Regions from separate parts of the Homo sapiens genome. Here region 1 is linked to region 2. Evidence: fine-mapped QTL for protein levels in blood plasma. A gene starts in region 2. The other region holds a variant in brackets. All regions are shown on one strand. Distances are between the middles of the regions.

Region 1 (4,000 bases), 71 kb before region 2:
GTCGGGGGAGGGGAGGCAGAGGGGACACCATGGCTGGGAGAAGCCCGCCTCTATGTGGCAAGGGGACTGCGGCTGGCTTCTGCTTCAGCTACTTCTCGGGTTCCTGTCTCCTCTGCAGAGCTACCAGGACTGCTGCGTGCTGGGACCAGGACCTCCATCTGGAATCCACTCTCGATACCCTGCACCAGCTTGGAGGCAGATCCCAAGGTGGCAGGGGTGTCCCTGTGCCGTCTGCTTCCTCTCGGGCAGGAGGATTCCAGCTTCCCGGGTGAGGGGAGAGCACTGTCCAGGCAGGGCTGGGCCAGGAGGCCTGGGCTGCTGAGGCGGGAAAGCGGTGGCTGTGGAGGGCACGTGCTGCCCCCACCTCCGTCTCGGGGCCTGGCTTCCCCACTGGATGGCAGAGGCCGCTCCAGGTGCTTCCACTTGGTGGCGCCCATGAGTCTGCTACTGGAGAAGCTGTGGTCTCAGGGAGGAGACAGACACCACAGGCCAGACTGGGTGGAGGAATCTTCCCCTCACAATGTCCCCTGGCTAAAAGCATCCATCTAGCTGCAAGTACTATCTTGATTCAACCCAGGGGCCGACAATGGACTGCAGCCCAGGGTAAGTCCAGCAGTTTTGCAGTCTTCCGATGCCCTGTGCCATGGACCTGCCGGCCAGAGCTCCTGGGCTCCCGTGGAGGTTAGCCCTGCAGGCACCGGGGAAATGGGGCTATGGCCTGTGCTTCAGTCAGGACACCTGGGGGCTGCACTGCGGAGGCCAAGGGCATCTAGGAGCAGGGGCTGTCTCCTTGGGGTGGAGACTGGCGGCTGCAGCCTCAGATAAGGCACTAGAGGACTGGACTGGTCCTGGGAGCCAGGCCCAGCCATGTGGTGGATGACGGTGCTCAGAGAGAGGATTTGGGTCCTGCGGGAGGTGACAGCTGTTTCTCTTTTCTTTTTTTTGGGACGGAGTCTCCCTCTGTCACCCAGGCTGGAGTGCAGTGGCGCAATCTCAGCTCACTGCAACCTCTGCCTCCTGAGCTCAAGAGATTCTCTTGCCTCAGCCTCCCGAGTAACTGGGATTACAGGTGCCCACCACCACTCCCGGCTAATTTTTGTAATTTTTTTTAGTAGAGATGGGGTTTCACCACGTTGGCCAGGCTGGTCTCAAACTCCTGACCTCAGGTGATCCGCCCACCTCAACCTCCCAAAGTGCTGGGATTACAGGAGTGAGCCACCGGGCCCAGCCTGTTTTCTCTTTTCTCCTTTCCCTGGGGAAGAGGGTTGGCCGGACAGACCCTGGTGTGGCTGGGATGGGGGACTGCTGCAGAGAGGTAACGGGCCCCTGAGATAGACATGGGACAGCCCGAAAAGGTGGGACTGAGAGGGGACACTTGTGGCCAGCAGTGTATCTCTGACACAGTCTCACCCCGCAGGGCTCCTGCAGTCTCGATTCAGGGTGCTTGGTGTTCCCAGATGGTGTTTGAGGGTCCTGACCCGACCTCATTCTGCTATAGCCATCAGTCCCCTGCTGTGGCTTTGGGGATCAGAACTTCCCAGCTAGGGCTCCCACTGTTGGACTCAGGGGACGGAGGCAGGCTAGCTGAAGGGGCAGTGCCCATGAGCTGGGCCCCCCGCAGAGCAGGCTCCTCTCTCTGCCTGGCCTCCACACCTCTACTGGTCTCCACGCCCTTGCATGAGGTGACAGGAGCTGAAATCACACATCCCAGGGGCTGAGGCAGCTGTCTGATTTGGAGACTTGCTCTGTGGCCCAGGGATCCGTGCCTCAGCCCAGCCTCACAGGGAGTGGGGAAGAGAGGGAGTAAATCAGTGGGGCTTCCCTTGTCCACAGGTTATTTAGAAAAACAGAACATAATAAATATACCAATTCTTTCCTT[A/T]AAAAAAAAAGTGTTTAAATGTGTTTTTCCCTGAAGATTTCCAGTGTATTCCACAGTGTTTAAAAAATAGTTTCCCCAAAAATATATCTTGAAAGCATTTGACACAGTGGTATTTGTGGCGTATCTGGCGCTTGTCAGTGTGGGGCCCAGGCCTGATGAGCCACCAGCCCAGCACCCGAATGCCTGCTGAAGGTGGCGCACACGTGTGCCTGGGATGTCCGGCTCTTCACAGGGGATCAGACTGCGGGTCACGTTGAGAGCCAACACCATGGGCTCGGTTCCGGCTGAAAACCCGCCAGTGTGAGGAAGCAGGGCCCCGGGTGGCCAAGCGGGCTGAGCAATGCCCTGGAGGCTGGATGGGGGTCTCGTCCTCAGCCCCTTCCCCTCCTCCGTCTTGGCTCTCTCCGCTTCGTCCTTACCAGACTTCGCACTTGTGAGGCGGGTTCATGGGTGAGCCAGGTGGGCAGCGGAAGTGTTCTGAGAACTCCTTGGAATTGGAGAGGGAGCCGATGACCCGGAAGCGAGAGGGGCTGTGGGGATCGGTGATGAGGCCTTCGTGGGAGCTCTCAGGTGTGCGGACGGAGCACCAGACCTTTGAAGGGGCAACAGGGAGAGGCCAGGGTCACTGTGGGGCCCTCGGGCTGCCAGACTGCCCCCATTATAACAGCAGGGGAGGCCAGGTGCGGTGGCTCACACCTGTAATCCCAGCACTTTGGGAGCCAAGGTGGAAGGGCTGCTTGAGCCCAGGAGTTCATGACCAGCTTGGGCAACATGGCAAGACCCCATCTCTACAAAAAATTAAAAAAAAAATTAACCAGGGATGGTGGTGTACACCTATGGTCCCAGCTCCTGGGGAGGCTGAGGTGGGAGGATCACTGGAGCTGGAGAAGTCAAGGCTGCAGTGAGCTGTGATTGTGCCACTGCATTCCAGCCTCGGTGATAGAGTGAGATCCTGTCTCAAAAAGCAAAACAAGGTTGGGTGTGGTGGCTCATACCTGTAATCCCAGCACTTTAAGAGGCCAAGGTGGCGGTGGATCACTTGAGGCCAGGAGTTCGAGACCGGCCTGACAAACATGGTGAAACCCTGTCTCTACTAAAAATACAAAAATTAGATGGGCGTGGTGGTGCGTGCCTATATCCCAGCTACATGAGAGGATGAGGCAGGAGAATCACTTGAACCCGGGAGGTTGAGGTTGCAGTGAGCCAAGATCACACCATTGCACTCCAGGCCGGGTGACTGAGGGAGACTCCGGCTCCAAAAAAACAAAACCCAGAAAATACAACACCAGGGAGATAAGCCCCCCACCTGATCCTGAGATCCCGGGGAGTCAGGAGGGTCCCCTGAGCGGGTCAGGAAGAGACAGTGGGCTGGTGTAGGGCTGGTGTGCCACCCCCCATGCCAGCAGCCTCTAACGCAGTTGTCTCCAAACTGTTCTCCTTCAGCCAGCGCAGCATCTCTGAGGCAACTGCATTCGATTCCATCTGAACAAAGGACTGTGTCCAAACACCAGTTGGAAAAGCTTGGATTTAGTCCAGATCTCTCATTTCCTGGGCAGAACAAATTGTCTAATGGCCTGGTAGCTCTGAGTGCCAGCAGAAGGCTACCAGATGAATGCCGACTGAAGGGATGATCTGGGATGATCACAGCAAGACAGAATCTTGCTATGTTGCCCGGGCTGGAGTGCAGTGGCGTGATCTTGGTTCACTGCAACCTCTGCCTCCCAGGTTCAAGTGATTCTCATGCCTCAGCCTCCCAAGAAGCTGGGACTACAGGCAGCCACCACCATGCCTGACTTTTTTTTTGTATTTTTTCATAGAGACAGGGTTTCACTATGTGGACTAGGCTGGTCTCAAACTCCTGACCTCAGGTGATCCACTTGCCTCGGCCGCCCAAAGTGCTGGGATTATAGGCGTGGGCTGCTGTGCCTGGCTGGTCATCTTAAGTTTAAGAAACCTCTAGAACCCTAGAACCAGAAGGGCCCTGGGTGATCACCTCGTCTTCTCATTCACCAGATCCAGGAATCCCTTCACTGGTACTTTGGGCCCTTCCGTGCATCTCTCTAATGACAGGGCACATGTGCTGTGCACAGTCCAGTGACTTGGGAAGTTCTCAATCTGTGG
Region 2 (4,000 bases):
TAAGCCACTAGCCCAAGGTCGTGAGTGGAGTAAGAACTCAAACCCGGGTCGCTGGCTTCAGAGACGGGGCTCCTCCTGCTTGGCCGGGGGCCCTCCCCAGAGAAATGTGCTATTTCATCTGAAAAAGGTTATACCCCAAACAGGCTGCTGTGAGGATAACAGCAACATGGCATTATTACTTTGCTGTGAATTCTGAAATGCTTTTGTGTTGATATATTTAGACCCTTCTGTGGAAGATGAGACTGAAAAACATTGCTGATTAGATTCTGTTTTGATTTGAGAAGGGAAAAGCACCTGCCCCAGAAATCTAATTTCCTGCTGGCTTCAGCCTCTTAAGAAGAGTCCACTGGGAAGAGGTTTGAGACAGACAGGGTTTGACGTGTCGCTCTCGGATTTTTAGCTCGGTGACCGAAGGCCAGTGGTTGCCCCTCTCAGAGCCTCAGTTTCCACATCTGTAAGTGGGGACAGTAATCCCTACAGGTCTCAGGGGTGTTCCTGAAGGTTAAGCAGGGGTACCACACATCCCAGTGGGTAGAGCCCTTGGGACTGTGAGTTTGGGTCCCCTGGGCCTATGTGACCCTGGAGGAGGAACTCCATCAATGGTGTCTCCCTGCGCTGGGAGGATTATTCCCGCTTCTAAGAGGCGTATCTGAGTGGAGTGGGCCTGGCAACTAAGCGTCCATTCATCCTAAGCTCGCCTTTGGGAAGAGTTGTGTGCCAGTTCACCAAGTGGCCCCAAGATTCTCCCAAATACTTCCCTTGGTCTACCTGGCAGAAGTCCTCCGAGAATTGGGGTGCCCCAGCTCCTCTTTCTACACTGGCTTCTCAAGAGCCAGATCACTGGGTCTCCTAGGGTGTCCGCAGCGTTTCCAGCACCTTCCCACGCACCTGGCTGGCTCCAAACCCCTCCAGCACTGAGGTCTTGGCCACAACTGTCCCAGTGCAGCCCCCCAGGGACGGGAGGGCAGAAAGCAGCCTTGCTCAATGTCCTGTTACAAGGCAGGGACGGGGGTGGGGCCCTCCCCAGGAGTGGGCAGATGGGATGCCCACGGGCGGAGACCCTGGGGAGGGGAGGAATTGGACTTCCTTAGTAGGCTGGAAAAGGGGCAGGGAGAGGGGGCAGAGAACAGGTTTCTGGCCCCAGGAAACTCAGGTATTGGGAGGGCAAGAGGAAGAGGGTGGTACTGCCTCCCGGATAAGGTGACCAACTTTCCCAGTTTGCCCCGGACTGGGGGAGTGGGTTCCAGGGATGCAGGGCTTTCCACGCTAAAACAGAAACAGCCGTAGACTCTGCCGGTAAAGGGCCTGGGCAAGTCCCGGGACATGCACAAACTGTGCCTTCTGTGGAAAGGGAACTGGACCAGTTCGGGTCTCGGGGGTGCTTTCAACTCTGCCACCTGGGCTGTGGCCCCAGAAGCAGGTGGCCGGGAGGCTCTAGGGATGGCGGGGGCAGGTGAGGGGAGACTGGTGGGCTCCGGAAGGCTTCTCAGCGCGGAGCTCCAGCTGCGGGGAGGCGCGGCCCCTCCCGGATGCCGGGACGAGGGAGGGGAAGGGAGGGGAAGAGGCGGGGTAGGTAGGGGCGGGGGGCGCGGCAGCGGCAGCGCGCATGCCCGGGCCCGGGGCGCCTGGACCTCGGGAGGGAGCGGAGGGCGCCTACCTGCAGGCCGTTGGGGTATGCGTCGCCCTCGGAGAGCGAGTCCACCAGGTCCTCCTCGTCCAGCGTGGCCCGCTTGTACGTCGACATCTGCAAGGCCAAATGCAGCACGGACTCCCTCAGCGCCTCCATGGCTCTCGCGCCCGAATGGGGAAGCGGCCCCGACCCTGGCGCCGCCGCCGCCGCGCCCCGCCCCGGCCTGGACACCCGAGACCGAGACCGGCCCACGGAGCGGCCCGCGCGGGGAGGGGTCCCGCCCGCCTCCCGCCCCCGCCCTCCAGGCCGCGCCCGCCTCACCCCCAGCGCCGACAGCAGGGCGGACACCGGGGGCGGCCACACGCCCCGCATGCTGTGCCCCAGACGCCTGGTCCCGCTGCCCGGGTGGCCGGGATGGGATGGGCCGGGCCAGGCGTTGCACCACCTTCGCGGGCGGGGCCTGATCGGTTCGCCGGCGCCCGGTTCCCAACCTCCGGCCTCCCGGGGAGACCCCAAGACCCGAGAGGCCCGGGGGAGATGGGGACCCCTCCCTTCCCCGGAGGTCGGGAGTGGGGGCCCCCAAACTGAAGCCCCTAGCAGGCAGGAAAGGCCCTCACAGTGACCCCTCCTTCGAGAAAATCTTAAGTCCCCCTTCAACAACCGGGTCCCCAGTGGCAGATAACAAAAGTATCAGGAAGGTGCCCTCGATGTGGCCCAGAGCAATCAAGACAGGTTCCCCCCGGCATCAGCCCTTAGGTGTGTCTAGGGGGTTAATGCTAGAAAGACCAGACAAAAAAGGTGGGGTAAAAAGGTAGGTGTCCCCTTTCAGTTCCCCTTTCTAGCTCAGAGGCCTTTAAGCCAGAGTTCGTGAATGAGTTTCAGAAAATTTCAGAGAACTCCCTGACACGGGATGAAAGGAGCTGTGTGTGTGCATTTGGATGGCTGCAGGGTGGTCCGGTGGTCACCCCCGTGCTCAAAGGTGTCGCCCTCCCTGCAACACAAGAGAACCATTGCTCCAGGGGGAGTCAGAAGCCAGGAAGGGGACCCTTCTTTCCCATCTTCCCCCTCAAGACTCGGAGCCTCAGCCAGGTGCCCCCCTCCCCAGCCCCTGAGCCCTCTCCTATAACCCTAGGCAGGGAAAGGGGGCTCTCTCGGATATGAGGTGTTCAGTTAGGGACTCAGGCCCAGCACTGTCCCAACCAAGAACCCCAGAGAGGTCTAACCCAGCAGATTTCCAAAGGACTCTCCGCTTCTAGCAAGGCGGGAATCCCTGCATTTATGCGTACTTTTCAGCTTTGCAAAGTGCATTTCTGCTCATTCCAAATTTGATTCTCACAGTCACACATATGTGTGAATAAACAGGTTTAGAGGGGTGAGGGGCCTGACGTCACAGGGACAGTGAGGGCAATGGCTCCAGATGGTCTCCTGGCTTCCACTCCTGCCCTCTGACAGCCCCCTCAGCAGCCAGGATGAGCCTTTAAAATGAAATCTGGCTGAGGCCAGGCACCATGGCTCGCTCGCGCCTGTAATCCCAACACTTTGGGAGGCCAAGTTGGGTAGATCACTTGAGGTCAGGAGTTCAAGACCAGCCTGGCCAACATGATGAAACCCCATCTCTACTAAAAATACAAAAAATCAGCTGGGCCTGGTGGCATGCATCTGTAATCCTAGCTACTCAGGAGGCTGAGGCAGAAGAATCGCTTGAACCCAGGAGGTCGAGGTTGCAGTGAGCTGAGATTGTGCCACTGTACTCTAGCCTGGGTGACAGAGTGAGACTCCATCTCAAACAAACAAACCACAGAAATCTGGCTGGGTTCAGTGGTTCACACCTGTAATCCCAGCACTTTGGGAGGCTGAGGCAGGAGATCACTTGAGTCTAATTCTAGGCCAGCCTGGGCAACACGGACCCCATCTCTACAAAAAGAAAATATATATATATATATTTATATATTATATATTTTTAATTAGCAGGACGTGGTGGTATGCGCCTGTAGTCCCAGCTACTTGGGAGGCTTAGGTGGGAGAATCGCTTGAAGCCAGGAGGTGGCGGCTACAGTGAGCTGTGATTGCACCACTGCACTCCAGCGTGGACGACACAACAAGATCTTGTCTGAGTAAATAAATAAAATAAAAAAAAATTCTGATATTACCACTCCCTTGCTTAAAAACCCTCCACTGTCCTGGAATGAAATCCAAACCCTTCACCAGGCCCCATGGCCCCTGCCCACTCTGGGCCCTCATCTTGTGCTGCCAGCGCCCCCTCCCCCACCAACCTCCTCACACAACTCCTCAGTTTCTACAAGTTTCTTCTTCCCCCAAGACCTTTGTAGCTGCTGTTGTCTCTATCTGGAACATTTTTTCCTCCTCTCT

Direction of the effects. Positions count from the first base shown, and alleles are read on the strand shown. Strength reflects both the effect of a copy and how common the allele is.
With allele A in place of T in region 1, the plasma level of the protein whose gene starts at base 2,051 in region 2 is higher (moderate association).

The links. A credible set is the group of variants that fine-mapping cannot tell apart. PIP is the posterior inclusion probability: the model's chance that the variant is causal. The UK Biobank Pharma Proteomics Project read protein levels with antibody pairs (Olink). The fine-mapping took linkage between variants from a reference panel, not from the people measured, so its PIPs are less certain.
Region 1: its variant is the best candidate, but not a certain one, in a credible set for the plasma level of the ECE1 protein (UK Biobank, PIP 0.77).

The regions. Positions count from the first base shown.
Region 1 is chr1:21,217,661-21,221,660 of GRCh38, forward strand. ECE1 (endothelin converting enzyme 1) reads right to left here. Exons shown (of 19, transcript NM_001397.3): 19 at 1-2,471. The coding sequence ends at 2,295. Among named protein-coding and RNA genes, the nearest start is that of EIF4G3, 43 kb to the left of the region's middle. RefSeq lists a silencer at 378-583. The variant A/T (reference allele first, on the strand shown) is at 1,880.
Region 2 is chr1:21,288,413-21,292,412 of GRCh38, forward strand. It overlaps ECE1 (endothelin converting enzyme 1), which reads right to left and starts at 2,051. Exons shown (of 19, transcript NM_001397.3): 1 at 1,952-2,051; 2 at 1,658-1,744. The coding sequence starts at 2,002. RefSeq lists an enhancer at 495-1,056 and silencers at 1,733-1,902, 1,953-2,132.